Linked DNA regions of Homo sapiens: region 1 is linked to region 2. Evidence: fine-mapped expression QTL. A gene starts in region 2. The other region holds a variant in brackets. All regions are shown on one strand. Distances are between the middles of the regions. Region 1 overlaps ZSCAN5A (zinc finger and SCAN domain containing 5A). Region 2 holds the start of EDDM13 (epididymal protein 13).

The links.
Region 1: its variant is fine-mapped to the expression of EDDM13 in sun-exposed skin (GTEx, PIP above 0.99). The same link has a PIP of 0.9 or more in unexposed skin.

Annotation. Positions count from the first base shown.
Region 1 is chr19:56,294,673-56,310,752 of GRCh38, forward strand. The region is part of intron 2 of ZSCAN5A (zinc finger and SCAN domain containing 5A); the gene reads right to left. EDDM13 (epididymal protein 13) reads left to right here. Exons shown (of 15, transcript NM_001354658.2): 10 at 1,287-1,295; 11 at 1,664-1,690; 12 at 2,833-2,859; 13 at 7,296-7,423; 14 at 10,121-10,158; 15 at 15,452-15,782. The coding sequence ends at 15,476. LOC124900420 reads left to right here. Exons shown (of 5, transcript XM_047439799.1): 5 at 1-15,782. The coding sequence starts at 11,569. The coding sequence ends at 12,687. Among named protein-coding and RNA genes, the nearest start is that of ZSCAN5A-AS1, 12 kb to the right of the region's middle. The variant G/A (reference allele first, on the strand shown) is at 6,845.
Region 2 is chr19:56,264,671-56,280,750 of GRCh38, forward strand. It overlaps EDDM13 (epididymal protein 13), which reads left to right and starts at 8,078. Exons shown (of 15, transcript NM_001354658.2): 1 at 8,078-8,249; 2 at 11,422-11,439. The coding sequence starts at 8,165. All of the region lies in intron 2 of ZSCAN5A (zinc finger and SCAN domain containing 5A), which reads right to left. It overlaps LOC124900420, which reads left to right and starts at 8,078. Exons shown (of 5, transcript XM_047439799.1): 1 at 8,078-16,080.

The sequences.
Region 1 (16,080 bases), 30 kb after region 2:
ACACATTGTGAATGGGCATGGCTCTGTTCCAATAAAACTTCATCTACAAAAGCAAGTGTCAGGATGTCCACCCACCGATGAATGGGTAAATAAAATGTGTCTATTCATACAATGGAATGTTATTCAGCCACAAAGAAAGTGCTGACACAGGACACAACATAAACGCGCCTTGAAAACACAGTGCTCAGTCAAAGAAGCCAGACACAAAAGCACATAGGGTATGACTCTGTCTCTACGACATGTCCACAGCAGGCAAGTCCACAGATAGGGAAAGCAGCTTAGTGGTTGCCTAGGACCGCGGGAGAGGGGGGTGAGCCCAGAGAGATGGGGAGTGACTGCTCAGGGGCACCAGGTTTGGAGGCAATGGCCAACGGGTACACGGTTTCTTTTTCAGGTGATGAAAACGTTCTAAAATTGTTTGTGGTGATGGATGCACAGCTTTGTGAATGTCCTAAAAACTACTGTCTTGTACACTTGATGGGTGAGTCATAAGTTATGTGAATTATATTAATATACCAGTCAAGTTGTTATTAAAAAACAAAGTTCAGAAAACAACAACGGGTGGTGGGATGGAATGTGCCACCCCTGGATGAGTATGTAGGTGCCTACATTAGAGTGACACAAAATACATGGAAAAAAGGCCTGGCATGGTAGCTCACACCTGTAATCCCAGCACTTTGGGAGGCTGATGCGGGCGGATCACCTCAGGTCAGGAGTTCTAGACCAGCCTGGCCAACGTGGTGAAACCTCCGTTTCTACTAAAAATACAAAAATTAGCCGGGTGTGGTTGCGGGTGCCTGTGCTCCCAGCTACTCAGGAGGCTGAGGCAGGAGAATCGCTTGAACCCGGGAGGCAGAAGTTGCAGTGAGCCGAGATCGTCCCACTGCACCCCAGTCTGGGCAACAGAGCAAGACTCCGTCTAAAAAACAAAAAACAAAACAAAACAAAAACAAACAGAAGAGATGGGAATGGCGTGGCGGCTTCCTTCCCAGCCTAACCTTGCTGCGGTGCAAATCCTGCAAGTCACTGCACGTCCCTCCAACCCACACGAAGCAGCCTCTGACTGTTCTGCGCTGTTCACTGTGGCATGTCCTGACTACTCAGCACGACCCACCCAGGGCTCCGCTCTCCTGTGCTCCCATCGCTCTGTCTTCTGATGTTGTGATTTTTCCCTACATGTGGCCTCCTCTTCCACGGCTCCTGGGAACTCCATACTCTGGGCCTGTCTGCTCCCCTGACCTGTCTTGCTTCCTGGACCCCATCTCCTTCTGGATGGACATCATCAGAGATCCTAGGTGACACCTCACTCCATGCCTGCCCCGGGACTCTGTAGGAAGCTGGTTTGGGAGGAATGCTTTTTAGGGCTGGGCAGGGTGGTGGAAAGCTGAAAGATGGATCTGACAAGCTCACACCCTCACGTCAACTCACAGTCTAGTGGAGGTGGGGAGATGGAAAAGTAACAGGCAGTTAAACTACAACAGGAATCTGTGTGGCACAGGGGGGAGGTGGCAGTGGGGACAGTGTGCAAGAGGACGATGCGGGCAATCCAGCAGGGCTTCTCGGAGGAGGAGTGGCTTGGGGCGAGCCTGCTGGACCTGCTGGTCTGGAAGTGTTTATCATGCTGTCCCTTCTGACTCGCGTTGTATGCCCCTGTCCTCCTTAGGCTTGCTGAGCCTCCAAGTACTGCATGGTAAGTCTGGTGACTGCTATTTCGTGTTCACTCCTGTGCACAGAAATATACAGGTACTGGTTTTTTCTATGGTGGGGGGTCCCTTAAATATCATCAGACCCTACACTCTTTATCCGTATCATCATCTGCATCATAAATGTTTAACATGTTTTTATTTGTCCAACAGATATTAACTGATGTTAGCTCTCCTGTACCAAATGTTATTCTAGGTGTTAGAGATGCAGCAGAGGATAAAACAGACAGAAGTCTGTGACCAAGTGAAACTTGTATTCCAATCAGAGGAGAAAAAACAAAGAGCAGTAGTTATAGGTCTGCTGAAGGCTATTATGTCCTATGGAGACAATAGAGTAATGGGGATGGAAACGCAGTGCGGGAAACTTAAGTTTTTTGGCTGGGCATGGTGGCTCATGCCTGTAATCCCAGCACTTTGGGAGGCCGACGTGGGTGGATCACCTGAGGTCAGAAGTTCGAGACCAGCCTGGCCAACATGGTGAAACTCCGTCTCTACTAAAATACAAACAATTATTTTGAAACAAATTTTGTAAACATAGAAAAAATTAGCTGGGCATGGTGGTGTGCACCTGTAATCCTAGCTACTCGGGAGGTTGAGGCAGGAAAATCACTTGAACCTGGGAAGCAGTGGTTGCAGTGAGCCGAGATCATGCCATTGCACTCCAGCCTGGGTGACAAGAGCAAAACTCTGTCTCAAAAAAAAAAAGTTTTTAAAGGGCGATCAGGGAACATGACATGTGAGCAAAGGCTTGAAGAAGAAGGGCAGGTGAGCCAGAGATAACTGGGGGAAAGGCATTCCAGGAAGAGAGAACAGTATATGCAAAGGCCCTGAGGCAGCTGAGTCCCTGGGATCCAGGGACACAGGGAGACTAACTTTATTCTCTTCTCTCCTCATTCGAGGCACCTGGAAGCACTATTTAGAGTTTGGTCTCCACCCACTTCATAATTCACCTGATGGTTTCTTTTCTTTTCCTTTCTTTTCTCCTCCTCTTCCTCTTCCTCCCTCCCTCTCTCCCTCCCTTTCTTCCTTTCCTCTTCCTCTTCCTCCCTCCCTCTCTCCCTCCCTTTCTTCCTTTCCTCTTCCTCCTTCTCTTCCTGCTTCTTTTTCTCCTCCATCTCTTCATTTTTAGAAGAAACAAGTGGCTGCAAGGAGGAAGGTAAGTGCTTGGGGTCGTACCATTCCTCATCTATAAGACAGTGTGTCCCTTCTGTCTGGGCTATGATAAAGCCTTAGAAGAGAAGATTTCAGGTAATCAAGGCCCTGCAGGGGCTTTGGTACCTGAGAGGCTGCCTTCCTGAAGGGCATCCAAAGTCTGCAAGCCACTGCCCCTTTCACACTGCTCATGGGCATCGAGGAGACCCAACATACTGAGATGTGAGTGGGAGACATTTCTATCCCAGCTGCTGCTTCTGTGGACTGTGAGTCCTCTCTTCCCGACATGGAAATTACCAAGCTAAGTCCTGGGTGATAGGACTGAGGGCCGGAAAACCAGAAAATAGCAGCAAGCCACCAAGTGATCCAGATGGTGGAGATGAGCGTTTTAAAGTAGGCAGAGCCGGGCATGGTGGCAGCACCTGTGGTCCCAGCTACCCGGGAGGCTGAGGCAGGAGGATTATTTGAGCTGGGGAGGTGGAGGCTGCAGTGAGCCGTGATTGTGCCACCGCATCCGGCCTGGGTAACTGAGCAAGTCTCAAAAAAAAAAAAAAAAGCCAGAACAACACTAATGGTTGGTTCTTTTGAAAAGCGTAATACAAATTTAATCCTCTAGCATTACTGACAAGAAAAAATAGAGGAGAAACAAACTGCCAATATTTGGAAGGAAGAAGAGAGTATCATAGCAGATCTTGCAGGTAACAAAATAACAATAAGGTGATCATTGGAGAAACTTTATGCCAATAAAATTGAAAGTTTAGATAAAACGGACAAAATCCCAAAAAAACACAAATTACCAAAAACAAATGAAATGATATAAAAAATCTGGGCTGGGCGCGGTGGCTCACATCTGTAATCCCAGCATTCTGGGAGGCCGAGGCAGGCGGATCACAAGGTCAGGAGATTGAGACCATCCCACCCAACATGATGAAACCCCGTCTGGTGAAACCCCGTCTCTACTAAAAATACAAAAAAATTAGCCAGGCGTGGTGGCGGGTGCCTGTAGTCCCAGCTACTCGGGAGGCTGAGGCAGGAGAATCACTTGAACCTGGGAGGCGGAAGCTGCAGTGAGCTGAGATCGTGCCACTGTACTCCAGACTGGCAACAGAGCAAGACTCCATCTCAAAAAAAAAAAAAAAATCTGAATAATCCTCTATCTATTAAAGAAATGCCACCTGTAATTAAATAGCCTTACCACACACAAAAAAGTCTTTCAGGATCAAGTTAGCTTTAATAGTGAATTAAAAGGAAGAAATCACATTGATCTTACAGGAAATCTTCCAGAAAATTAAAAACAGTCATTTCCCAACTCGGTTTTAGGACAGAATAACCTTGATAAAAGATCTGACAAATACGACAAAGGAAAATTTCAGGCCAATCTTCCTCATAAATATAGATGGAAAATCCTAGACTAAATATTAGCAAGTGCAATTTGGCAATACATGTTAAACAATCATGACTAAATTCACTTTATTCCAGCAATGCGACAATGGTTTAATAGGTAAAAACAAATATATGGTATTCCCACCTTATTAACATAAAAGAAAACAAGCACATTATCATTTCAGTAGATACAGAAAAAGAATATGGTAAGATTTTACAGCTTACATTATTTTTTTTTTGAGACACGGTCTAGCTTTGTTGCCCAGGCTGGAGTGCAGTGGTATGATCACGGCTCACCACAGCCCTAAACTCCTAGGCTCAAGTGATCCTCCCCTCTACAGCCTCTGAGTAGCTGGGACCACAGGCACGAGACACCACACCCAGCTAATTTATTAAATTTTTTGTAGAGTTTGGGTCTCCCTATGTTGCCCAGGCTGGTCTCAAATTCCTGGGCCCAAGTGAGCCTCCCGCCTCAGATTCCCAAAGTGCTGGAATTACAGACATAAGCCACCATGCCCAGCCTTGTTCATGATTAAAAAAAAAAAAAATCTCAGCTAGCTAGGAGTAGAGAGAACAGCTTAATATAATAAGGAATAGCCACCAAAAACTTACAAAGAACAAGCTGTTTAAGGTAAAACACAGTTGTCCCTCAGTATCCTCAGGGGTTGGGTCCAGGACCTCCCCGCAGATAGCAAAATTCCTTGATGTTCAAGTCCGTGATATAAATAGCATAATGCTTGCATTTAACCTATGAACAGCCTCCTGCACACTTTAAATCATCTCTAGATTACTTATAATACAATGTAAATGCTCCTTAGTTATTGTACTGTTATATTTTTGTATTGTTTTTATTGTTGTATTGCTATTTTTATTGGGATTTTAAAAAGTATTTTTGACCAGTTTTTGGCTGGGTCCTCAGATGCAGAGTCCAGCGACACAGAGGGCTGAGGGTGTAGAACATGTTCCCTCTGAGATCACAGATGAGACGTTCTTGCTATCACCACTTGCATTTCACATTGGACTGAACGTTCTATCCAGTGCAAATCCTAGCCAGGCAAGAGAAAGGTAATAATAGGCAAAAGGATTGTGAAGAAAGAAAGATGAGCCTCATTTTTTATAGATGTGATTGTGTACCTTTGATTGGGAGGGTATATCTGAGAGGCTTGGGATATGCTGGTGTTGGTGAAATATAATTAAAAACAAAATATCCTCCAAACCCAGAGCTCTTCTCCACCCAGGTAGAAGAGAAAGAAAATAGTTTTATTAATGGGTAAGCATTAAACCAGAACATGATATGCGAAGAGACTGCAAAGACAGAAAAAAAAAATTTCACCCTTTTATATAGCCAAGCAGATACAACTTATTACATACCTGCTCTCAAGATAAACAACAGCTAGTCCTCAAGTTAAAGAACTTGACAGCTCTATTTGCTGTACATGGTTCACCGTAAATTCACTTGGTTATTGGGATAGCCAACTGTGTTTGTTAATTGGCTTAATCCAAGGGAAAAATAAACTTCTAGTATCTTTATCACAGGAGGTAGATTTGCTACTTGGGGTGAGGTGCCCACCAAAGTTAGGCTCCATCCCCTCCCAACAAGAAGCTGGGGAAGATGTTTCGAGGTCCTTGAAAACACCCTCCTGGGTCATAATGCTGGCCGCAGGCTTACTTAGCTTTGAAAAAGATTAGTGTAAACGTTGAAGAGAGAGAGACTTGCAATGGCAAAATTTTCTAAAGTAAATGCTCTAAGCAAAGGGGACAAGGAGTAATCGCTTCCTGAATTTTCAACAGGGAGAATTCATTTTTTTTCGTTTTCGATTTGCATTTGCCTGTACACTGGTAATGTTTTATTTTTTGATTGGAAACCTGTTTAGACAGACAGGTTTACGTGTAAAAAAAAAATGAGATTTTCTGAATGTAATACTTTTAAAATAAAAAGACAAGGGAAAAATGTTACACAGGCGAAAGAAACACTCTTGCACCTCATGAGGTTTGACATAAGAAAGCGACACGGTCGGATCTGGTGCTAGAAAGATCCTGCTGGCACTCATGTGGGAGATGGATGAGAAAGAGAAAGGATGGCGTAGTGGGCAGAGGCAGCCATCAAGAGCAGAGCCTGAAGCCTGGGGATGGGGGAGAGGTGGTGGTTTTGTTACCAGAAAGGGGTCCCGATCAAGACCCCCAGAGAGGGTTCTTGAATCTCGTGCAAGAAAGAATTTGAGGCAAGTCCATAAAGTGAAAGCAAGTTTATTAAGAAAGTAAAGGAATAAAAGACTGGCTACTCCATAGGCAGAGCAGCAGCAAGGACTGCTGGACTGAGTCTCCTTATAGTTATTTCCTGAATATATGATAAACAAGGGGTGGATTATTTATGAGTTTTCCAGGGAAGGAGTGGAGATTTCCTGGAGCTGAGGGTGCCTCCCCTTTTTAGGCCAGTAGGGGAACTTCCTGAAGTTGCCATGCCATCTGTGAACTGTCATGGTACTGGTGGGCGTGTCTCTTAGCCTGCTAATGCATTATAATTAGTATATAATGAGCAGTGAGGACCACCAGAGGTCACTTGAATCGCTATCTTGGTTTCGGTGGGTTTTGGCAGCTTCTTTACC[G/A]CAACCTGTTTTATCAGCAGGGTCTTTGCGACTTGTATCTTGTGCCAACCTCCTATTGTCATCCTGTGACTAAGAATGCCTTAACCTACTGGGAATGTAGCCCAGTAGGGCTCAGCCTCATTTTACCCAGCCCCTATTCAAGACGGAGTCACTCTGGTTCAAACCCCTCTGACAGTTTGGTGAGAAATCTGGGCAAGACAGGGTCAGATTTGGTGATGTCTTGGATGTGAGGTGGGAGAGCCAAAAGGCATTCCTGACTGTTTGTCTGGAGTATGGTGGTAACCAAGAAGGGGGAAGCTGGCAGTGATGGTGGGTGTGGACCAAAATTTCAATTCAGGAGGCAGGCAGAGATGTGAGTTTGGAGATCAGAATGGAGAGACAGCAGTGACAGGAAGCTCTAAGGCAGGAAGGGAAGGCCATCAGCATCAATCATCTCCACGGTTCTCTCCAGTTAAACCCTTCTCAGGCACCACCCCATCCAGGAAACCACTCCCCAAGAGGAAGAACACGTGGAACTTCCTGAAATGCGCCTACATGGTGATGACCTACCTCTTCGTATCCTACAACAAAGGGGACTGGGTAAGAAGAAGGCAGCACGGAGGGGAGGAGTGTGAGGAGAGGAAGGAAAGAGGAGGGAAGTGGGGGCACAGAGGAAGCGAAGGAGGGTGCCTCAGAGGTGCCAAGCAGGAAGTGGTGGGAGAGCCCTTCTGTAAAACACTCTCTTCTTCCCACTCTCCCACCCGCCTCCATCTCTCATTTCATTCTTCCTTCCTCTCTCCTTCTTCCCTCTTTTCTCCCTCCCTCCCTCCCCTTCCTCCTTCCCTTTCCTCTTCCTTTTTTCTTCCCTCCCTTACTTCCTCCTTCTCTCTCCTCCCTCCCTATTCTTTCCTCCTCCCTTCATCCCTCCCTTTCTCCCTTCCTTCCTTTCTTCCTCTCTCCGTCTGCTTCCTCCCTCCCTTCTTCCTTCCCATCCTTCTTCCCTCTCTGCCCTTCTTTCCTTCCTCCCTCCCTCCCTCTTCTTCCTCCCCGTTCCTCCCTCCCTCCCCCCTTCCTTTTCTTCCTCCCCCTTTTCTTCCTCTCCCTCTTCTTCCTCTCCCTCTTCCTCCCTCCCTCCTCCTCCCTTCCTTTTCTTCCCCCCCTCCCTGTTCTTTCCTTCCTCCTTCCCTCCTTCTCTCTCCTTCCTTCTCTTTCCTTCTTCCCTCCCTCCCACCTCTAGACTGGGATAAAACTTCTCCCTTCTGCACTAACACAGCCCCAGGGGCTCCTTTGAAATACTGTCACTCATTCTGCCTCTCTCTCTGCCGCTGTCTCTTGTTCTTTCTAAGGGACGTTCATAAGGACCAAGCCTGTTGCTGGTTGCTGGGGACTCTGATGGTTGAGCTACCTTCAAGAAGGTCCTAATTCTGTAAGGGAGGCAGACATCCACAGAGAGAACCAGATCACCGAGTGGTAGCACTTCATGAGCAGGTGCTAGTGCAGGAGGCAGTGGCGCTTATCTCAGCCTAGGGGAAGTGTGGGCTCATGGAAGCCTTTCTGCAGGAGGTGACACCTCTGCTGTGGGTTAAGGACAGAATGGAATTAGCCAATTGAGGAGGGGAAGCAGGGGAAGCATTCCAGAGAAACACCATGTGCGAGACTCAGAGAGGTGAAAATAAGGCAGGGTGCAAGAAACTACAAGCCAGGCCGGGCACGGTGGCTCACGCTTGTCATCGCAGCACTGTGGGAGGCTGAGGCGGCTGGATCACGAGGTCAGGAGTTCAAGACCAGCCTGGTCAACATGGTGAAACCCCGTCTCTACTAAAAATACAAAAAATAGCCGGGCATGGTGGCGCATGCCTGTAATCCCAGCTGCTCGGGAGGCTGAGGCAGGAGAATCACTTGAACCTGGGAAGCAGAGGTTGCAGTGAGCCAAGATCACACCAGCCTGGGTGACAGAGTGAGACTCTGTCTCAAAAAATTAAAGTAAATAGAAAAAAAAAGAAGGAAAGGAAGGAAAGGAGGGAGGGAGGGAGGGAGGCAAGACGGAAGGGAAGGAGGGATGGAAGGAAGGACAAGTCATCCTTCATTCATTGATTCAGTCAGTCTTCAAATATTCACGTGTGTAGAGGACCCATCCTAGATGCTGGGGACTCAGAGAAGAACGGAACCCATAAGGTCCTTGAGTCCCCAGGGCTCCCATGTTTGGGATAGCAGGAGGACTGCAGAGAAACAAGCAGCCAGCTCCAAAAAACATGAACTAAATCAGGGTGATATCACAGAGTGAGCAGCCATGGCCACGGGCAGCCTTCCCCGGGCAGGTAACGTCTGGACATAAGAGATGAGACAGTGGAAGGATCTTGCCTTCAGAGCAGCTTGGGGGCAACCACTGCAAGCAAAGCAGGCATGCACAGCAGACCCTGAGGCAGGAACACACTGAGTACCTTCGAGGAACCAAAGGAACATCTATGTGACCTGAGAGGGGCAGGGGGGTCCAGGTCATGTAAGGTTCTCATAGACCACGAGAAGGAAGCTTGTGTTCTAAGCTAGTGGACAGCCGCCAGCAAGATCCCTTCTGAGTTATCAAAGGATCCTTCTCAATGCTGCCTGTGGAGAGTGGATCGGAATCAGGGCGAGAGTGGGAGCAGACAGACTGAGAGGAGGAGACACACTGAGAGGAGGCCCGACCAGCCAGCGCAGGGGACCTGGCGGTGCTCATGGAGATGAGAGCCGTGCAGCAGTTCTAAAGGAACTGCTTATGCGCTGGGTGTGAGGAATAAGGAAAATGGAGAGACCAGGGAGATGAGCCTGAGACAGTGACTTCAGTTATGCTAGTGGTTCTGAAACGGGGGTGACGTTGCCACCCAGGAGACACTCAGCAGTGTCTGGACCACAGGATTGGTTGTGACAGCTGGAGGAGGGAGCTCGACTGGCATCCAGTGGGCAGAGGCCAGGGAGGCCACTCAACCTGCCATACGGCCCAGGACAACACGCCACGACAAAAATAACCCAGGTCAAAACGTCAGGAACCTGAGGCTGAGAAACCCCAGCTTAGGGGATTGTGCTGCTTATGGGGATGAGGAGAACTGGCTGGAAGATGGGGAAGAAGGTGGGAGTGGTGAGAGGCGGGCTGAATAGAGAAGCAAGACCAGAAGATGTTACAACCAGAGGGAAAGAGCAGAGGGGGAGGACGGGAAAGAAGCGAGAGGGGGATGGGGAGAAAGGGAGGTAAGGAAGGAATTCACTCGCCTCACCCCAACTGTTTCTTTCTCTGTTCCCAGTTCACTTTTTCCTCCCAAGTGTTACTGCCACTACTGTAACTTGGAACTGGACATCAGGTATGCTATGGCAGGGAAGTGGGCTTTTCCCACCGCTGGGGTGGGGTTAGGGGAGGTTCATCCCAACTGCCTGGCATTTGAGGTAAGGAACACAGGTGGATTTGGAAGCTGCAATCATAGAAACCCAGAATTCCATGAGAAGTCCCAAGTTCGTCACCCTTACTTGCAAGCCACTGCCTGACAGGGGCAAGGAAACACATTGTAAATGACAGGGATGTGCCGGGCAGGAGGAACTCCTTTATAAATTCACTCTATAATTTTTTCACAAGTCTTAGGACTTGTGGCCCAACACACACGACATAAAATTAACCATTAGTGACATTCAGTACACTCAAAATATTGTGTGGCCATCACCACTAATCTGTTTCCAGAATCTTCTCATCATCCTAAAAGGGAACTCTGTACCAAGACATCGTCTCTTCCCCCTGTTCCTGGCAACCACTAGTCTACTCTCTGTCTCTGAGAACTCACCTACTCTGGTCATTTCATACACATGGAATCATACACTACGTGGCCCTTTGCATCTGGGTTTATTCATTTGGCATAATATTTCCAAGGTTCATCATGGTATACCTTGTATCAGGACTGTATTCGTTTCTGCTGGATAACACTCCACGGCATGGACATAGCACACTTTGTTTATCCATCATCAGGTAAAGTGCACTGGGTTGCTCCCACCTTTTGACTGTTGTGAGTCGTGGTGCTATGAACAAGTTATGTTAGAATATCTGTTTTAAAATCTTTTGGGGTACAAACTAGGAGTGGAATTGCTAGGTCATATGATAATTCTGTGTTTATAACGACCCACTGATGCATCCTGGATGCAGTAGTGAACGGGGCAGACAAGATTCCTGAGCTCACAAGAAAACAATTAGATGATTACAGGTGATACTTAGAGCTAGAGGAAAAGCTGAGGATATGATGAAAAAGAGAACTAAAGAACCTTGCCCTGGATAGTTGGGTGATGAAGGAAAGCCTCTTTAGGAAAGTGACAATGAATCAAAGGCCTGTAGAATGAGGGGTTGTCAGATACACAGAAAACAAGTGAAAGAGCCTCCAGGTGAAGGAACTGGCTTGTACGAAGGCCCTGGGGTGGAAAGTGGCCTAGATGTGCCTGGAGTCAGAAAGAAAAATGGGGGCAGGAGAAGGGGGAGGGAGTGGGAGGGCACTATGGGAGGAGTGTGGGTGACATGCTCAGCAGACCACCTCAGACCTGGAAGATTAGAGCAAGCATTTTAGACCCAACCTTCAGAGCCATGGGAAGCCACGGAAAGGCTGTCAGTGAGAAAGAGACACGTCCCAGTGACATGAAGTGTAGAGGCCAGTTAAGAGGCTACTCAGTTTCCACGAGATGACGGTAGCCTGGTCAAGGCTAGGGTCCAGGGTACGGAGAGAAAGTACGAAAGACAGATGGGAGGTTTCTCTTCCCTCGATAGCTGCAAAGAGGGTCCCCCTGGCCTCTCCCGCATCGCCAGAGAAAGTACTAAGGACAGATGGGAGATTTCTCTTCCCTTGATAGCTACAAAGAGGCTCCTCCCTGGCCTCTCCCACGTCGCCAGAGAAAGTACTAAGGACAGATGGGAGACTTCTCTTCCCTCGGTATCTGCAAAGAGGGTCCCCCCCGGCCTCTCCCCTGTTGCCAGAGAAAGTACTAAGGACAGATGGGAGATTTCTCTTCCCTTGATAGCTACAAAGAGGCTCCTCCCTGGCTTCTCCCACGTCGCCAGAGAAAGTACTAAGGACAGATGGGAGATTTCTCTTCCCTTGATAGCTACAAAGAGGCTCCTCCCTGGCCTCTCCCACGTCGCCAGAGAAAGTACTAAGGACAGATGGGAGACTTCTCTTCCCTCGGTATCTGCAAAGAGGGTCCCCCCCGGCCTCTCCCCTGTTGCCAGAGAAAGTACTAAGGACAGATGGGAGATTTCTCTTCCCTTGATAGCTACAAAGAGGCTCCTCCCTGGCTTCTCCCACGTCGCCAGAGAAAGTACTAAGGACAGATGGGAGATTTCTCTTCCCTTGATAGCTACAAAGAGGCTCCTCCCTGGCCTCTCCCACGTCGCCAGAGAAAGTACTAAGGACAGATGGGAGACTTCTCTTCCCTTGATAGCTACAAAGAGGCTCCTCCCTGGCCTCTCCCACGTCGCCAGAGAAAGTACTAAGGACAGATGGGAGACTTCTCTTCCCTCGGTATCTGCAAAGAGGGTCCCCCCCGGCCTCTCCCCTGTTGCCAGAGAAAGTACTAAGGACAGATGGGAGATTTCTCTTCCCTTGATAGCTACAAAGAGGCTCCTCCCTGGCCTCTCCCACGTCGCCAGAGAAAGTACTAAGGACAGATGGGAGATTTCTCTTCCCTTGATAGCTACAAAGAGGCTCCTCCCTGGCCTCTCCCACGTCGCCTGCCTTTCATCCTCTCCCTGGCATCCCCAGTGCCCTTTTTACATTAAAAAATGTCAACTCGATCATACGATATACCCCCACCCCCTGCTGCAGTCCTGCTTAAATCCACCAGTGGAAACTCACCAACTATGATGAGTGTCTTTCAAACTTTAAAAGAAAGAAAATCCAAAACACTTTTCTACTGAAATCTTACATGGAATCCCAATATATAAAAAATTCTAAGTTGCTTTTCATTACCAGAGGTACTTTTCCTAAGGTTAACTGTGTGACATTTACTTATTATGAAGTGAGGTGATGAGATTTGCAAGCACAGGGTACAGAAGGCCTCTGCTGTCTTACGTTACTCTCTTTTACCCCGTATCTTGCAGTGTTTCCTTTTAATTGTTCATACGGAGAAAAATCTGAGCCCACAGAGATAAGTCACTGCAAATGCCTAATAGTTTGCCTTGTGAAGTGTACATGCCCTTCAGGTAATACAATTTTTTCCCCAAGGTCTGTATGTAAAACATGCAACAGGTTGGTGTGGCTCTCCAGTGAATAAAAATTTCAGTCCATGTGCTATATTTTGGGTACACACCTATTTTAAAAAATAGTTTAATTTTTGAAATGAAAATCAAAGCAAACCTTTGTGGAATTCCTAAAAGATCCCAAGTTTTCAGGGAACCTGGCAGGAAGCCTCTGCCCCATTGATCAAGTTCAGGTCTCTGGCATGGTACCCAAGGGTTCTCAGGCTCCAAGCTCCTCCTGCTTCTCTAAACTTTTCTCCACTTCTCTTGATCCCCCCACCCACATTCCATCCCCTGTCCATATTAAACCTTTTTTTTTGAGACAGGGTCTCGCTCTGTCGCCAGGCTGGAGCGCAGTGGCGCAATCTTGGCTCACTGCAACCTCCGCCTCCCGGGTTCAAGCAATTCTCCTGCCTCAGCCTCCCAAGTAGCTGGGACTACAGGCGAGTGCCACCACGCCCAGCTAAGTTTTGTACTTTTAGTAGAGACGGGGTTTCACCATGTTGGCCAGGATGGTCTCGATCTCTTGACCTTGTGATCCGCCCGCCTCGGCCTCCCAAAGTGCTGGGATTACAGGCGTGAGCGGTGGCTCCCAGTCTTTTTTTTTTGAGATGGAGGCTCACTCTGTCACCCAGGCTGGAGAACAGTGGCCCAATCTCAGCTCACTGCAACCTCTGCCTCCCAGGTTCAAACGATTCTCCTGCCTCAGACTCCCAAGTAGCTGGGATTACAGGCATGCACCACCACACCTGGCTAATTTTTGTATTTTTAGTAGAGATGAAGTTTCACCATGTTGTCCAGGCTGGTCTCGAACTCCTGACCTCAGGTGACCCACCCACCTCGGCCTCCCAAAGTGCTGGGATTACAGGCATGAGCCACCACGCCCCCCCATATTAAATCATTTCTGATTCCCCCCAAAACATCACATTTTTTTTCCCGCTCCATTATGCCATTGCACACATTGATTCCTTGATCTCTGTCTACCTAGAAAAGTCCTCCTCAGTCCTCAAGATTCACCTAAGCAATGCTTTGGTTCAGGAACCAACAGCAATCCTTCAGATTCCACTGGGGAGGATGCTGAAGGAAATGAATGGTGTTGAACGGTTTCTCAGGCTCTCTTCAACCATACATTAAAGCACCGGTCAAACCAGATAGTTATTTTCATATAAAGGTGTGCTTTCAACCCATTAGGCAAGAGGTTGGCAAACTTTCTCTGTGAAGGGCCAAATATTACGTGTTGGCTTTTCAGGTCATATGGTCTGTTGCAACTACTCTAGTCAAAGCAATCGTAGAGAATACACTGATGGCTGTGACTGTACCCAACAACTGATGAAAGGATAAACAAAACGTAGTGCATTCATACAATGGATTATTATTCAGCCCCCAAAAGAGGAATGGGGTCCTGGCACGTGCAACAACACGGCTGAACCTTGAAAACACTGTGCTGAGTGAAAGAAGCAGACACAAAAGATCACACAGTAGATGATGCCATGTATATGAAACAGACAGATCTGGCAAATTCAAAGAGACAGAAGGCCAATTACTAGTTGTCAGGGGCTGAGGGGAGGAAGGAACAAGGGGAGTGACTGCTTTTAATGGATTTCTTTTTTGGGTTGATGAAAATGTTCCACTCTTAGAAGTGACAATTGCACAACATGGCGAATGTAATGAAGGCCACTAAATTGTGCCCTTTCAAAATGGTTAAAATGGTGAATTTTATGTTATGCATTATGTTTGCATTTTACCTCAATTACAAAAAGAAACTTTATTAAAAGGGATGCAGGCTGCAGTTGGCCCTGCGGAACACAGTTTGAGGGCCCCTGCTCACATAGACTGTGAGCCCCTGTGGGAGCAGGAAGTACCCCTGATCCATCCCTGGAACTCCAGCACCCAGAAGCAAACCTTAAGGTTCTCTTCCTGCAACTCTGAGTGACTCCAGCACACCAGGCTAGGGGGTGCAGCCCAGCCAGGCCTGGGCAGTCCCTGCTCCTGCGGGGCGCGCCCTCTAGTGGGAGGTAGGGGTGCAACACAAGCTCAGGCCCGGCGCCGGGACAGTGAGGAACTGGAGGGGGCGCTGCTTCCCACTGGCTGGTTTCTAGAAGAGCCCTGCTCTGAGGAGGAGACACTTGCCCTGGTGATGGGGCAGAGCTAGGGTCCATAAGATCTGAGGGAAGCGTGTTCCAGCTGCTGGAACAGCCCGGTGGGAATAGGGACAAACTTGGTGGAACCTAGTGAGTGGGGAGAATGGGCTAAGCTGGAGGGAGGAGGTGGGCTTGAGGCAGGTCACAAAGAGCCCTGTAGAGGTGGATGGAGAGGGCACCAGGCAAGGAGTATGAGAATGCATGAAGACGAAAATCAATGCACAAATACATTTCTCTCTCCTTTCTTAGGGATGATCCCTGCTGTTCTTTCTAGTGAGCCTGCTCCATCTCAGCTTAGCCTTCACAAGGCCTCCATCTCCCAGGCATTCTAACCTCTGAAGAAAGCTCTCTGTCCCCTGGACTGCCTGTGTGGAGGGTAATGAACTGGGTCCTTTAAGGAATGGCACCTGGGTGCCCAGAGGCATGGCCAGAAGGTGTCTGTGGGGGCCATGCCTTAGGGGGATGCACCCAGGGCGGCTGAGAGAGCAACTGCAGGAGTTTCCCCTAAAATCTCTCCTCCAGATCGTTCTCGAACTTTCCCCACTACTTCCATAATAAAATGTATACTTGTTGAAATGGCTGAAAAGGCTGGGTTATTCCATTCGCCCAACACTGAAAACTAACAGGTATGCTGGTGGATTACCAAGAATCAAACGCTATCAGTTAACTGTGCACTTTACAGGTGAAGACACTACAGCTCAGAGAGACCGATGGCTCGTCCAACATCACACTAAGCTACACAGCTGAGATTTGACCCAGTTGGACTCATTCCAAAGTCCGTATTCTTTTGTGTAAAGATTTGGGGCTGCCCCCACCGTCCTGAGGAAATACAGTTGTGAGGATATGGCTGTTCCAGGAGGAAGCCGTATCCAGCTCTC
Region 2 (16,080 bases):
GTATTGTCTCTGGTGGCTTTCTCACTACAGTGGCAAAGTTGAGTAATTGCGACAGGGACCATATGGCTAACAAAGACAAAAATAGTTACTATCTTGCTCTTGACAGAAAAAGTTTTCCTACTCTTGATCTAGGTCACACTAAAGCTTTTAGTCATAAATGCTATCCTAGGGCTGGGCGCGGTGGCTCATGCCTGTAATCCCAGCACTTTGGGAGGCCGAGGCAGGTGGATCACTTGAGGTCAAGAGTTCAAGGCCAGCCTGGCAGACATGGTGAAACCCCGTATCTACTACAAATACAAAAATTAGCCAGGTGTGGTGGCAGGCGCCTGTAATCCCAGCTACTCGGGAGGCTGAGGCAGGAGAACTGCTTGAACCTGGGAGGCGGAGGTTGCAGTGAGCTGAGATCACACCACTGCACTCCAGCCCGGGTGACAGAGTGAGACTCCATCTCAAAAATAAATAAATAAATTAAATAAATGCTTATCCTGTATGTAATGTTGAGCCATGGAAGGATTTGGAGTAGGGGAGACACATGGGCTTATTTCAGAATTACAAAAAAACCATTCTCAGATCCATCCTAGCACAGGGCACTCCCATGATAAAGGCATCAACAACACAATTCCAAACCATCTTCACTTCTCAATCTTTCACCTTGAATACCATTTCAACAAATATTAATTGAGCATCTAGTATGCACCTATACTCTATGTAAGTGGTTAAAGCTGTAAGCAAGCAGTAAGGCTTGAAACTTAAAGCTGGTGGAAAGTAAACTGAGGAAGTGAGCTTTCTCTTTGAGAGATCCAATGGAAGGAAGACTATGTACAGAAGGACAGCAGCCAGAGGTTGCCTTAGAACACAAACAGAGCTGAACTTCTTGAATCAAGCAGGTTTTTTGGGTTCCAGTGGCAGAAACGGACTTTGGCTAGCTTAAAAGAGAAATCACTGGAAGGAACTGGCAAAGGGGTGGAGTTCAAAGGATTAAAGTGAAGGCTGGAGAGTGGGTTTGGGAAAGAGTGAAGCCTGGGAAACCAAGAGATTTCTGTATCATGAGCCACTCAACACTCTCACCTGAAAAGCATTAAATCTGCTTCTTCCACTCTTGCTTTACTCAATTCGAGATTTAAAGTGCCAGGTAAGCAGTCTGATTAGCCTGGCTTAGGACAAAGGTTGGTTGGCTTTAGTGTAAAAATAAGGATCTGGTGCAAGGAGCTTTGAGGGACCCTGCTTGCTTTTCATTATGAGAAAATGGGCACGTGCATTAACTATCCCACCAGGACCACATACAGTGGAGCAGAGGTAATTCTTCCAAAGGAAATCAGGGTATAGAGACTTAGCAGCTAAACAAGTTCACAAATGTCAATCATACCTGTATAGATTCAAATCCTACCTCTTCCAATTATTGGCTTTGTTGACTTTGGGCAAAGTTATCTCATTTGCAAAGAGAAATTATAATACTACCCAGCTCTTAAAATTATGAGCTAATAGATATGAAGTGCTTAGAACCACGTCTGGCACATCATAATCACCCAATTAAGCTTAACTGCTGAGAGTATTATGATTATTACTGCATGCTTGCTAAAAATAGCACCAAGTGATAGAGCCCACGGTGAGATCTAGGCCCTCATTCCAAAGCTCCCGCTCTTTCTGCCAAGCCAAGCTGCCTTTGCAGATCCAACCTCAGTTAAATGAGATGATAATGTGTGTGAAGTTGTTGGGGCAGGTGCCCAAAGAGGATGCTCAATTACTGTCCAAGACTTTCTTCCTCTCTCCCCAAAGAAGTGAGTAGGCTTAGGCTTTGCTTTCTGCTTGGGAGATGCCCCCACTTTTTTTTTTTTTTTTTTTTTTGAGATGGAGTCTCACTCTGTCACTGAGGCTGGAGAGCAGTGGCGCGATCTCGGTGCCTGGTTCAAGCAATTCTTCTGCCTCAGCCTCCCGAGTAGCTAGGACTACAGGCACCTGCCACCATGCCCGGCTAATTTTTTGTAATTTTAGTAGAGACGGGGTTTCACCATGTTACCCAGGATGGTCTCGATCTCCTGACCTCGTGATCCACCTGCCTTGGCCTCCCAAAGTGCTGGGATTACAGGCGTGAGCCACGGTGCCTGGCCGGAGATGCCCATATTTAATAGAGAACCAAGTGGGTGTAAGAGGGCCCAGGGAAAGCAGACAAAGAGGAATGTTCCTGGTTTGTGCTTACTATCATTCTCACGGCGGAGCCCACTCAGGTTTGTTGACAATCTGGCCCCTGCCTACCACTCTAACCTCTCCTCCCTCCACATTCCCATGAGCTTACCCTGCTCCATCCACAATGATCTTCTTTCTGCGTGTCAAATTCCTTCTGCTTTTTTCTGCCTCGGGGTCTTTGCACAAGCTGTTCCCTCTGTCTAAGCTACTCTTACCCCAGATCTTCATTAGGATCTAAACTCAAATGTGACCATCTCAGTGAGGTCTCTCCTGACAACTCTAGCTACGGCAGCATCTCAACCCCATCGGTCTCTAACACATGGCCCTATTTCAGTTTCTTTGCAGCAATGACCAGTACATGAAATTATATATGTGTTTGTCAATATTGTTGTTTGTCTTCCTACACCAGACTATAAACTCCACAGGGTTAGAGAAAGTGCATCCCCAACACCGAGACTGCTTGGTTCACAGAGGGTGCTTTTACACATATGGCTCTGTCAGAACTGTCATAGCAACCCTGTTAGGTATATAGTCTATTAAGGCTGAGAGGCGCTTAGTATCATGATTTAGAGCAGCACTGTCCAATATATGTAGCTATTTAGATTTACCACGTAGCTATTTAGATTTACATGCTTCATAATGAAATAAAATGAAAACTTCATTTCCTTAGTTGCATTAGCGTCACCTCAAGTGCTCAGCAGCCGCACGTGGCTAGTGGCCACCATTCTGGGTAGCACGGATACAGGACATTCCTATCACTGCAGAAAGTTCTACTGGACAGGGCTGGTTTAGAGCATTCACTGCAGATTCATATACTTAGCTTCGAATCCCAGTCCTGCCAATTACTAGTGGTGTGATTCTGAGTGGACCTTATGCTTTTAGATCTCACTTTTTTCATCTATAAAATGACGCTAATAACAGTTCCCATCTCATAGTGTTGTAGGAGTTATTATAGGCAAAGGCTCTTAGAAGAGCATCTGGGATGTAGTCAGTGCTAGAAAAAGTATCGACTGTTGCTATGACACCTCCATTTTTACTCCCTGAGAAACTGAGGTCCAAAGAAAAGAAATCCTTGTCCTAGTGCACACAGCCAGGAGGTGGAGGGAGCTGAGGTTTGATCCCGCACCTCTATGATTTCAGAGCCTGGCTAAATCCGATGACACTTTTCAGGTCCCTTCTGGGAAAAATCCCTGAAACTTCTGACCCATTGCTCCCTTATCTGTTTAGTGGGGGACAGAAGACTCCAAGGGCTCCTCTATCTAGGATAGATGTGAAGGAACTGACTGGAGAGCCAGCCAGAGCCCAGGACATGGGTTGTCTATTCTAGGACCTAGTCAGTGGCTTGGGACTCCTTGGGGGTTGGGAAGCCAGGCTGCCCAGGACACAGAAGCATTGGTGTGGCTGAGCCAGTCATGCCAGCTGCAGCCGAGACCCCTTGTGTGGGCGCTGCCCCTGTGGGTGTAATGGCCCCTGCGGCAGGGACAGAATGCTCATCCCTCCCACCTGCTCAAGCTCTGGGACTGCCCCAGGAACTGTACAGAGGGGTTGAACTATTTCCACTTGTTTCCCTGTAGAAGCCTCAGATGCTGCTGCTGCTGCTGCTGGTTTAATTTTTAAATTTAGTTACTTTTAATACTTTTTAAATTTAGTTACTTTTAATATGCACAGTCCCTATGCTTGTACTGTTTTCTTTGTTTTGTTTTGGTAACATGGGATTTTTAATTGCTATTTTTAGAGCTTTTAACACATTTTTCTACATTTAAAACTTTTTTAATTGAGGTAAAATTCATATGATATAAAATTAACCATTTTAAGTGTACAATTCAGTGGCCTTTAGTGCATTCTCGATGTTGTTCAACCGTCACCCACATCTAGTTTTAAAACACTTTCCTTACCCCTCACCCCATCTCACTAAGCAGCCATTCCTCTTTCCCTCCCCATTCCTAGTCCCCGACAACCACTATCTACTTTCTGTCTCTAAGGATTTACTTGTTCTGGATATTACGTATCAATGGAATCATACACTAGGTAGTCTTTTGTGTCTGGCTGCTTTTACTTTGCATAATATTTTCAAGGTTCACCCATGTTCTAGCATGTATCAGTACTTGATTTCTTTTTACAGTTGAATAATATCCTATTATATGGCTATACCACACTTTACCCATTAATCTATTGATGGACATTCGAATCATTTCCATATTTTGACTCTAGTGAATAGTGTCGCTGTGAACATTCGTGTGTGAATATTTGTGTAATTACCTGTTTTCCGTGCTTTCGGGTACATACCTAGGAGTGGACTTTCAGGGTTATACGGTAGCCCTATATTTAACTTTTTGAGAAACTGCCAAACTATCTTCTACAGGGGCTATACCAATTTACATTTCCACCAGCAATGTATAAGAGCTCCAATTTCTCCACATCCCCTCAATATACTTTAAAACATTCACAATTATATGGCATAATAATATAATAATTAATGATAATAATTGTTGCTATCATTAATAGGAGGAAACCGAGGCTCAGGGATATAGTCAATTGAGCAAGTTTATGCATCTGTGAGGCAGGCAGAATAATTGTCCCTGAAGATACCCACATCTGACTCCTGGAACCTGGGAGTGTGTTACTCTCAGATGTGATAAAAATAAGACTGTTAATCAGCTGACCTTGTGGGGAGATTATCCTGGATTACTGGGGTAGGTCCAATGTAATCACAAAGGATCTTGTAAGTGAAAGAGGGAGGGAAATGGGTAACAGAGGGAGACGGAATGATGAAAACAGAGAATCAGAGCAATGTACGGTGAGAAAGACTTGACCGGCCATCGCTGGCCTGAAAATGGGAGAGGGTTGGAGAGAGATTTGAAGACGCCATGCTGTTGGTTAGGAAGATGAAAGAGGCCGACCAGGAGTCAGGAATGTGGGCAGCCTGTAGAAGCTGCAGAAGGCAAGGAAACAAATTCCTCCTAGAGCCGGCAGAAGGAATGTAGCTTTACCAAGGCTTTTCACTCTATCAACCCATTTCAGACTTCTCAATTCCAGAACTGTATGATAATAAATCTATGTCGTCTTAAGTCACAAATTTTATGGTAATTTGTTATGGTAGCAAGAAGAAACTCAGGCCAGCCGTAGTGTGGTGGGGCAGGGATTGGCATCCACACTGGATTGACTCAATGTCTGTGATTCTAACTGATTGGCTGTCTGTGACTATAACAACCAGGTTTTTTGCCGTCTCCAGGTCCAGCACCACTTCCCTGCTCCACATAGACATGAGTGGATCTCACAAACATCACGCTGGGTGAAAAAAAAAAAAAAGATCCCAGCACTATGGGAGGCCGAGGTGGGTGGATCACGAGGTCAGGAGTTCGAGACCAGCCTGGCCAACATGGTGAAACCCTGTCTCTACTAAAAATACAAAAATTAGCCAGGTGTGGTGGCGCACGCCTGTAATCCCAGCTACTCAGGAGGCTGAGGCAGGAGAATCGTTTGAACCCAGGAGGCGGAGGCTTGCAGTGAGTTGAAATCGTGCCATTGCAATCCAGCCTGGGCGACAGGGTGAGACCCCGTCTCAATAAATAAATAAATAAATACATACATAGCTAGCAAGTTGTGCAAGAAAGATTCAGTGAAACACCATTTAGAATAAATGTAAAAACACACAAAATAATATTACATACGTGTACTGGAGCCAGCTTATGAGGGTCAATTGTTAACGTTTTCAGTTTTCTACATTTAAAACATTTTTAAATTGAGGTAAAATTCCTCATTTTAGCTGCTTGCCTAACATAGCCCAATACTCAAAACTAAATTGTATAAACTTGAACATAAATAAGTTATAATAAAAATAGAGTAATAAGCACTAAAAGCTCATCACTTCCTAGTTGTGGCTCCCCAAACATGGTGGCGGTGGTGGTTGGTGTGGGGTGGGTGGGGCAGGTGCTACTGTGTAATTGATAGGGACCAGAGATGTTGCTAAATATCCCACAAAGCGGAAGACAGCCCCCACCACAAAAACGATCTAGTCCTAAATGTCAGCTGTGCCAATGGTGAGAAATCCTGATCTTCCCTAAAGCATGAGTTCCTCATGAGCAAGGCCAGTATCTGACTCATCTCTGTCCCCAGATCACAGTCTGGCAGAGCAGATAATGCTAAAGAATATTAATGATGTTCTACATCCCAGGCATTTGTTGCATTTAAACCCTAGTGTTATGAGTTAGGGACTGTGATTATATTTGATAAAGCAAAGAAACAGCTGTGCTGGTAATGAGGCTGCTAAGGAAGGATGGAAAATCGAAACGTAGGACTAATCAGAGAAATCCAAATATGCTCCCCCAACCAATCACAATGGCCTCTAATTAACCACTGCCAGCTTCCTTATGCCAACGGCCTCCAACCAGGCACTCTTGAAGCCTTCCCTTTCTTTCACTATAAGCTTTCCCACTACCCTGCCTGCCTTTGAGTCTGTGCCAAACACAAATGGTGTCAGTGGCCTCCCTTATTACAGCAAGCTCTGAATTAATAGCCTTTGCTTGTTTTCATTGGGTGGTCTTTACTTCCGCATAGCACCGGATGTGAAAAGCCTTCCACATGTTTTACGCCTTGTTTCTTCTGCTCATTATAACAAATCCTGTAGTATCACGTTTTCCCGGTGATGAGTTGCCAGGACCATGTGCTCACAAAGGAGGGGAGCTCTGAAATATGGCAAATGGCCAACAAGAACTCTCTCCTCCAGCCTAGTCTGAAGGATCGCTGAGGTATCCCCTAATGTACATGAGATGGTCCAGCTTGTACTAGGGATTGAAACATAGATAGCACCAGAGATGGCGGCAGGAGAGAGTCCCCTGCAAGAGTGGACATCCCTCCACACCTGGAACTCTTTCCTTCCAGGACACTACACACAACCCTCTGTTTCTATCAGGCTTGAAGGAAGTACCATAGAAACCTTCAGAGCTTAGATAGACCAGTGGTCTCTACACTCTGCCTTTATTCCAGGAGTCCAGAGGGATACTGGGTCAAGTTCATATTCCCACTGACAGCTAAAGTTCTTGACTGTCAAAGCAATTTCTAAGAATTACCAGTGGAAACAGTTAGTTCCCTGTGGCTGCTATGAAAAATTATTACAAACTTAATGGCTACAACAGTACAAATTTACTATCATACAGGTGTGATATGATAGTATCACATTAGCCTGGAAATATCATTATCCCAACTTTATAGATCAAGAAAATGAAGCACAGAGTGGTTAAGTAACTTGCTCAGGGTACATAGCTAGTAAGTGCTAGAGGTAAGTATAAACGTAGACATCTTTGGAAAGGAATATACACAAAAATGTAAAAACAATACTTACTTCTGAGTAGAAATACGATAGATGTTGTTTGCTTGCTTTGTTGTTTTTCTGAAATTTACAGTACGTCTAGGACAGGGGTCCACAAACGTTTTCTATAAAGGGCCGGACAGTAAATATTTTAGGCCTTTTGGCCCAGATGGTCTCTGTCACAACTACAAAGCTCAGTCTTGCAGCCTGAAAGCTGCTGTAGACAATACATAGTGAAATGGCATGGCTGTGTTCCAATAACACTTTATTCATGGACACTGAAATTCACATTCTATATAATCTTCATGTCATGAAATATTTTCTTTTGTTTTTTCCCTCCAACCATTAAAAAAGGTAACAATTACTCTTAGCTCATAGGCCCTACAAAAACAGGAGGAGGGCAGGATTTGGCCAGCAGATCATAGGATGACAAGCATCACACTCAGCATGAAACTGTTCTAAAATGTTGCTTTAAGATGAAAAAGCAGATACAGTTCTTTGGTCAGCAGTTGGTGGCGTGGGCACAGGTCTGGAGACCTGCCAGCCTCCAGGCAGGCTAGAGGGCAGGTGTGGGCAGTTAGTTTTGTCCCTGGAGCCTGGGAAGACGGTGGGTGACCAGAGAGTCCTGTCTATCCTAGGAGGAGAACATTCAGCCCAAATCCCAGCCCCATCATGCACAGATCAGAGCCATTTCTGAAAATGTCGCTGCTGATTCTGCTTTTCCTGGGATTGGCAGAAGCCTGTACTCCTCGTGAAGGTAATGCTTCCAGCCATGCCTTGTGTCCTCTATGTATTTTCTTACAACTTGGGAGGCTCTTGTGGGCTGGATTCAGAGAGAAGCTCCTGAAGTCTAACAGACTTCTTCTTGCTTCCCATTTAGACATTCACATTTCCCTTGATGGACACAGTGGGGTGAATGAGTCTAGGTTGCTAGCCCCTGCCCTTGGAGATACACTTGTGTCTGCATCCTGGTTTCTATCACTGATTCTGTGACTTTGGGGAGACACTGCGTCTGCAAACCTTGCTGTCCTCATCTGACCAACGGGGCTCACAAGAATCCCCAGTTCATGGGACTGTTGCATGTCATTGACGAGCTTACGTTGTGCAGTGCCTGGAAGTCAACATTACCATAGTTAGATAATTCTAGTGAGACTCCAGACTTTTGCGACGTAAAGACACCAAAGAGTATATTGGGAAGAGGACTTGGGTCTTGCCATAACTCTGAGTTCCCATTTCCTCATTCGATCCACAAATGTTTATTCCTGGTTCTTTCCACGGGCTTGATGCTGGGAATATAGTGATGAAAATAGTTCTGTCTTCATGGAATTCTCATGCTAAACACACACATTCTAGTGTGGGGATTCGGAGATGGCCTCTCTAGAAAAGTCACATTTGAGGTAAGGAATAGGAGCTGGCCAGCTGAAGAGTTAGGAGAGACTATTCCAGGCAGAGACTTGAATATGCAAAGGTCCTGGGGCAGAAGGCACTGAGTCCCTCCATCAGAGAGAGGCCGGTGTGTCAGGAACGTGGTAGGCAGAAGGAGGGGCATGGTGGTGAGACTGTTACAAGTAAGAAGAGACAGGAGGCAGGAAACAGAACAGACGGGGGCATGTGAGTCACAGGAAAAATGTTGGATGTTATCCTCAGGGAAAAGGAAGCTGTGAAAGGGTTTTCAGCAAAGGAGTGTCATATTTAGGAGCGTGTGTGTGCATGTATGTGTGTTTCTGTGTGTTTAAACAATGTGTCTTGCCCTCAGGAAAGAATGGATTAGGTGGGAATCAGATTAGGGGCAAACACACAAGTTAGAAAACGTTTTGGTCATCAGGGTGAAGATGGGGATAAGTAGAAGGTTACGAGGCACTGAGGAAACAGCTCACAGGATTGAGTGATGGGTCAGATGCTGGTGGTTGGGGATAGAGAAGCATGCAGAAAGGCTCTCTTTATACATACATGTATTTGCAACTGGGGAATTGAGGCTGCCCTTAACTGAGATGAGAAAACTCTGTAGAGGTCGGGCGCGGTGGCTCACACCTGTAATCCCAGCACTTTGGGAAGCCAAGGCAGCTGGATTATTTGAGGTCAGAAGCTCAAGACCAGCCTGGCCAACATGGCGAAACCCCATCTCTACTAAAAATACAAAAATTATCCAGGCATGGTAGTAGGGGCCTGTAATCCCAGCTACTCAGGAAGCTGAGGCAGGAAAATCGCTTGAACTCAGGAGGTGGAGGTTGCAGTGAGCCGAGATCCTGCCATTGCACTCCAGCCTGGGAAACAGAGCAAGACTCTGTTTCAAAAAGAAAAAAAGAAAAAAAAAAAAACTCTGTAGAGGAACACGTTTTTTAAAAAATTTATTTTGAAATTATTTTAGACTTGAGGAAAAGTCACAAAAATTAAGTTTCTGAATATTCTTCACCCAGTTATCTCAGCTGTTAACATCTTACCTAACCATAGCACAATGACTAAAAGCAAGACCCAACACCAGAACAAAACTATTAAAGAAATTACAGACCTCATTCAAATTTTACTAATGTTTCTACTAATAGAAAAACTATTCTATTTGAGGATCCAATCCAGGATCCCACCTTGTATTTTCAATTAAGTTTTTTGTTTTGTTTTGTTTTGTTTTGTTTCAGAAAATCCAGCTCTTGCTCAACCATGTTGCATTTTGTTATCCCATCTCCTTTGGTCTTGTGATTTGTCCTTAGGATGTGTGATTGAACCTCCTCAATCTTTGTCTTTCACGACCCTGAAACATTTGAAGAGCTCTGATCAGTTGTTTTGCAGAATTTCTCTCAATTTGGGTTTGTCTGAAGCTTTCTCATGATTGGATTGAGACTATGCATTTAGGGCAGGAATACCACAGAAGTGGTCTCACACCCTTCCCCGGGAATTATATCAGGGACCACATGATGTTGATGTGTCTTATTACCCATGGTGTAAACTTTAGTCCCTCGGCTAAGGTGGTGTCTGCCAGGTTTCTCCACTGTTAAGTTACTATTTTCCCCCTTTGTAATTAATAAATACGCTGGGGGAGAAATTTTGAGGCTATGCGAATACCCTGTTCTCCTCCAATTTTTGCCCATTAATTTTAGCATCCATCTGTGGATCTTGCTGCAGAAATGATTGCTACAGTGCTTCTCCAATGGTGATTTTCTATTCCCCTTATTCATCTACATATATTCAATGGCCTTTCTCTGTAAGGAAAAGCTGACTTTTCTTCTCCATTTATTTATTCAAGTACTGTATTTATTTATATCAGCGTGAACTCAGGGATATTTATCGTATTGGTTGGGTGCAGTGGCTCAAGCCTTTAATCCCAGCACTTCGGGAGGCCAACGCAAGAGGATCACTTGAGGCCAGGAGTTTGAGACCAGCCTGGGCAACATAGTGAGACTCATCTCTACAAAAAATAGTAAGAATAAATAAAAAGTATTGCATTAACAGATTATTTTTTGATGGATAGGAGTGTGATGACCACAGATTCTTTTTTGAACAGGCTAAGCTTGAAGCACCTGTAAGATGTTTGGGACATCCATAGATAGCAAGTTCTGTGAGAACAGAGTTTGGGGTGTCTAGTGTACTCTTATACCAGAACTTCTCTTCCCAATCAGCCTTGCAAATACCTACAGAGCAGGGGCTGAATCTGATTTATCTGCGTCTCCAACACCAAACATGGGCCAATGCCCAGAGCATGTACCATGTGAATGTTGGTTGGATGGATGATGAACGAATGGACTTATCGATGGATGGATGGGCTGATAGATGGGCCCGAGTAGCTTTATTGATAGCAGTGAGTGGGTCAGCTGATCTCCAGGGACACTTCTATCTCTGGTCTTCTTGGTTATTGCACTGATCTGAGTCTAATGCTAATTTCTCTCTCTGCTCCCTGCTCCCGTTGTGAACTGGCTGGCTGATGCTTTTGTCTCCAGTTGCAACTAAAGAAAAAAGTAAGAACCGTGGAACCCCCAAGTCTGTATTTTCATAGCTACCTCTCCTAAAATTCTTTTCGATCTTGCAACCTCTCTGGCAATTCTGGGGAAGGGTGGCACTTGGATCTGGTGCACAGACCTGCCATGGGGTCTGGACATGACTCAGAAAAGCAAACCTATTGTTTGCTTACAGTGATGCTCACAACTAAAAGAGCAGCCCTCCTTCACTCCTTTGTCTGGGGAAGAGAGGCCTATTCGGAAAATGAAGAGCATTTATCAGGGAAGAGAGACTTCGGGCAGATCTCCATTAGAATAACACCTTGGCTTATGTTTAACACCAGCTGGTGGTTTGCAAACTTCATGGTCTTAGGGCCACTGAACACGCGAAAAAAATTATTAAGGATCTAAAGAGCTCTTTTTTTTTTTTTCCAGTGAGGGTTATTTTTATTTATTTATTTATTTTTGAGACGAGCCTCGCTCTGTCGCCCAGGCTGGAGTGTAGTGGTGCGATCTGGGTTCACTGCAACCTCTGCCTCCTGGGTTCAAGCGATTCTCCTGCCTCAGCCTCCCGAGTAGCTGGGACTACAGGCTGCGCGCCACCATGCCCGGCTAATTTTGTATTTTCAGTATAGACGGGGTTTCACCATGTTGGTCAGGCTGGTCTCGAACTCCTGACCTCAGGTGATCCGCCCACCTCGGCCTCCCAAAGTGCTGGGATTACAGGTGTGAGCCACTGTGCCCGGCCAAAGGTTATCTTTATTGATATTTACCTTATTGTAAATTCAAGGATTTTTAACTTAAAAATATTTATATTTACAAATATTATAAATATTTACAAATACAAATACTTATATTTACAAAAACTATTTCTATTTACAAATAAGCACATAAAAAGATGCTCAACCTCATTAGCCATCAGAAAAATGGAAGCCAAAGCCACAGTGAGGTATCACTTCACACTAACTAACGTGGAGAAATCAGAACCCTCATATGCTGCTGGTGGGAATGTGAAATGATACAGCTGCTTTGGAAAACAGTCTGGCTGTTCCTCAAAATGTTAAACACTGAGTTACTCAGCAATTCCGCTCTAGGTATGTGCCCAAGATAAATGAAACGTAAGTCCACACAAAAACCCATGCACAAATGTTCACAGCAGCACTATTCCTAAGAGCTAGCAAGTGAAGGTAATCCTAGCATGCATCCATTAATGAATGGAGAAACAGAGTGTGGTCTATGCATACAATGGAATATTATTCACCCATAAAAAGAAACAAAGTTCTGATGCATTCAACATCGTGTGTGAGCCTTGAAAACATTATTCTCAGTGAAAGATGCCAGTGATAAAAGATCACATATTACCTGATTCCGTTTACCGTATATGAAATATTCAGGATAGGCAAATCCATAGAGACACAATGGACATTAGTGATTTCCAGGGGGTGAGGGGTGGGGGAATTTAGAGACAATGACTAAGGGGTTCAGGGTTTATTTTGGGGTGATTAAAGCCTCTAAAACTGGTGTAGTGATGGTCGTACAAGTCTGAGTATCCTACAAACCACTGAAATGGGTGAATTGCATGGTATGTGAATTATATCTCAGTAAAGCTATTATTCAAATATCTATTACTGCATTAAAAAAATAAGGATAATAGAGACTCAGAAGGAAGGAGGGTGGCAGGGAGGTGAGGGATGAAAACTACCTTTTGGGTACAATGTACATTACAAAGATGCTGGTGCACTAAAATCCTAGACTTCACCACTGCACAATTCATCCATGTCACCAAAAACCACTTGTACCCCTAAAGCTACTGAAATTAAAAATATTTGAAAAATAAGGATAATAAATATACATACTGACATAAATAAAATGTTTTAGTGAAATGGCTGTTTCCAAACCAAAAAAGTTTAGTAAGAAAGGTATTATTTTACATTTTTGCAAATCTCTTTGATGTCTAGTTTAATAGAAAACAGCTGAATTCTCATTTCTGCTTCAGTCTGTCACAATGTGCTATTTTTTTTTTTTTTAGCTTTATGTGTTTGTTTATTTTGGAGACGTAGTCTTGCTCTGTCGCCCAGGCTGGAATACAGTGGCACGGTCTCGGCTCGCCATGACATCTGCCTCCTGGGTTCAAGCAATTATCTTGCCTCAGCATCCGAAGTAGCCTCCCAAGTAGCTGGGACTATAGGTGCATGCCACCATGCCTGGCTAATTTTTGTATATTTAGGAGAGACAAGGTTTCACCATGTTGGCCAGGCTGGTTTTGAACTCCTGACCTCAAGTGATCTGCCCACCTCGGTCTCCCAAAGTGCTGGGATTACAGGCGTGAGCCGCCCCGCCCAGCCACAATGTGCTATTTTGGTTGAAGCAAATGAAAATCTAATCTCACACAGATAAGGAGTTGGAAAAGGGAAGATCATGCAGACCCGTTTTAGGCAGAGTTCTCCAGAGAGACAGAACCATGAAGATATACATATAGATACATATATAGATAAAGATATTGATAGAGATATTTGAGAACAAATTTCTTAGGGGAATTAGCTCACTCAGTTGTGGGGTCTGCAAGCTGCAGAACCAGGAGGGCCAGTAGTGTGGCTCAGTCCAAGTCTGAAGGCCTCAGAACCAAGGAAGCTGATGGATGGTCTAACTAACTCTCAGTCTGAGGCCAATGGCCTGGGAGCTCAGGGAGCTGTTGGTTCAAGTCCTAGAATCCCAAAAGCTGGAGTACCTGGAGTTCTGACATCCAAAGCCAGGAGAAGGGCATCCCAGCTGCAGAAGGGAGAGCAAGAATTGACCCTTACTCCACCTCTTGGCTTCAGCTGGGCCTCCATCCAACTGGATGGTGCTCACCCACCGTGAGGGTGGATCTTCCCTACCTAGTCTTCCAACTCACACCCCAATATCCTCCAGAAACACCTTCACAGACACACCTGGGGCAGCCCAAACATTCTAATCAAATGCCAAACCACTCAGGCTTCCCTTTCAGCAGAAGACGGATGGACTCAGTGCCTACTGAAGCATTGAGAATAAACGTCTTACTGCTATATGGGTGCCTTAGTCAAGCTGACACCCCAAATCAACCATCACATCCCCTGAAAGGATCTCAGGGACCACCTCCCACCCCCACCAAGTAGTCTTTGGATGATACTTCGAGAATTTCTGCTCCAAGTCACATGGAAGGGAAAAAGATCTCTTTTTTTTCCACCCCTACTAGACTGCAAGACTGTAAGTTCCTAGAGGGCAGGGACTGTACTTTACTCAATCTGTTTATTCCTATAGCCTAGCAAAATTCCTAGCGCTCAGTAGGACTAAATAAATGGAAAGAGCCTTGCAAAATGGAAAGGACTGTGAGAACATAATTTAATGCTATTATTTCAGGTTGAAAGGAGATAAAAGGATCCAATATTAATTAAGCATTTAGCATGTACTGAGAATTTAAAATACGTCATGCAATTTAATTTTCAAAATCGTAAGTGTCCCATATGGGGTCTGAGGTTTCCAAAGCTCTGAATCCTCACACTGGACCATCATCATGAGAATCACATGGGAAACTTTAAAAATATTTAATCCCCACACCAGACTTGGTGAGCTAAAATGCCTGCAGATAACATTTTGGGTTTTTTATACCTAAAAAGCTAGCCTATGTTAGTTCCTTCCTATCTTCAAAAGCTGAACCTTCTAAACCTAAACAAATGCAAACATCTCATGATCCACACTGTTTTTGTTTCAATTTAAAATATTATGCTGTTTTAATTAAAATGTTTTATGTTAAATTATTTTATTAATATTTCAATTAACAAAACAGTATTTACATAAACTTTAATTACATTTAAATTACTAATTAATTATTCAATTTAAAACATCATGTTATTTTCATTTAAAATAAGATTTCCAGGGTTCAGAATTAAAGAAGTTCTCAAGGTTATACTGGAAAAAACTCCTTCCCAACCTATTCACTCATTTCCCTTCCCCGAAAGAATCTGATATTAATTATTTCTTCCAGATCCTTCCAGAGATATTTTATGCAAGTAGAAACAAATGTGTATTTATATATTCAAAGTCCTCTTGTTTCTATTTTTACAAAAAAGACAGCGTATTATACACACTGTTCTGTATGCACCTTACTTTTTTCACCTAATAATACTTCCAGAAGATGACTCTGTGTCAGTTCATAAGGAGCATCCTCAACCTCTTATTTATACGTTTTTGGCTGAATAATATTTCTTGTATGGAAGTCCACAATTTGTTTGACCAGTCACATACTAATGGCCACTCAGGTTGTTTTCAGTAGTTTGCTCTTTTAAATAATCCTTCAAAGAAAAATTCAGCTTACATGAAATTAGACATATAGGATATATATCAATGTAGATCTACATATTTATATCTGTAGGATTATACATGGAAATATGTAGAATTATATCTATATATAGATATATATTTCTTTATCATCTAGATATAACCACTGTCGTAGTCTGTTTTGGGCTGCCATAACAGAATACCTGAGACTGGATAATTTATAATGAATAGAAATTTATTGGCTCATGTTTCTGGAGGCTGAGAAGTCCAAGATTGAGGGGTTGGCATCTTGTGAGAGCCTTCCTGTTGTGTCATCCTATGATCAAAGGACAGAGAGAGAGACAGAAACAGAGACAGAGAGCTCAG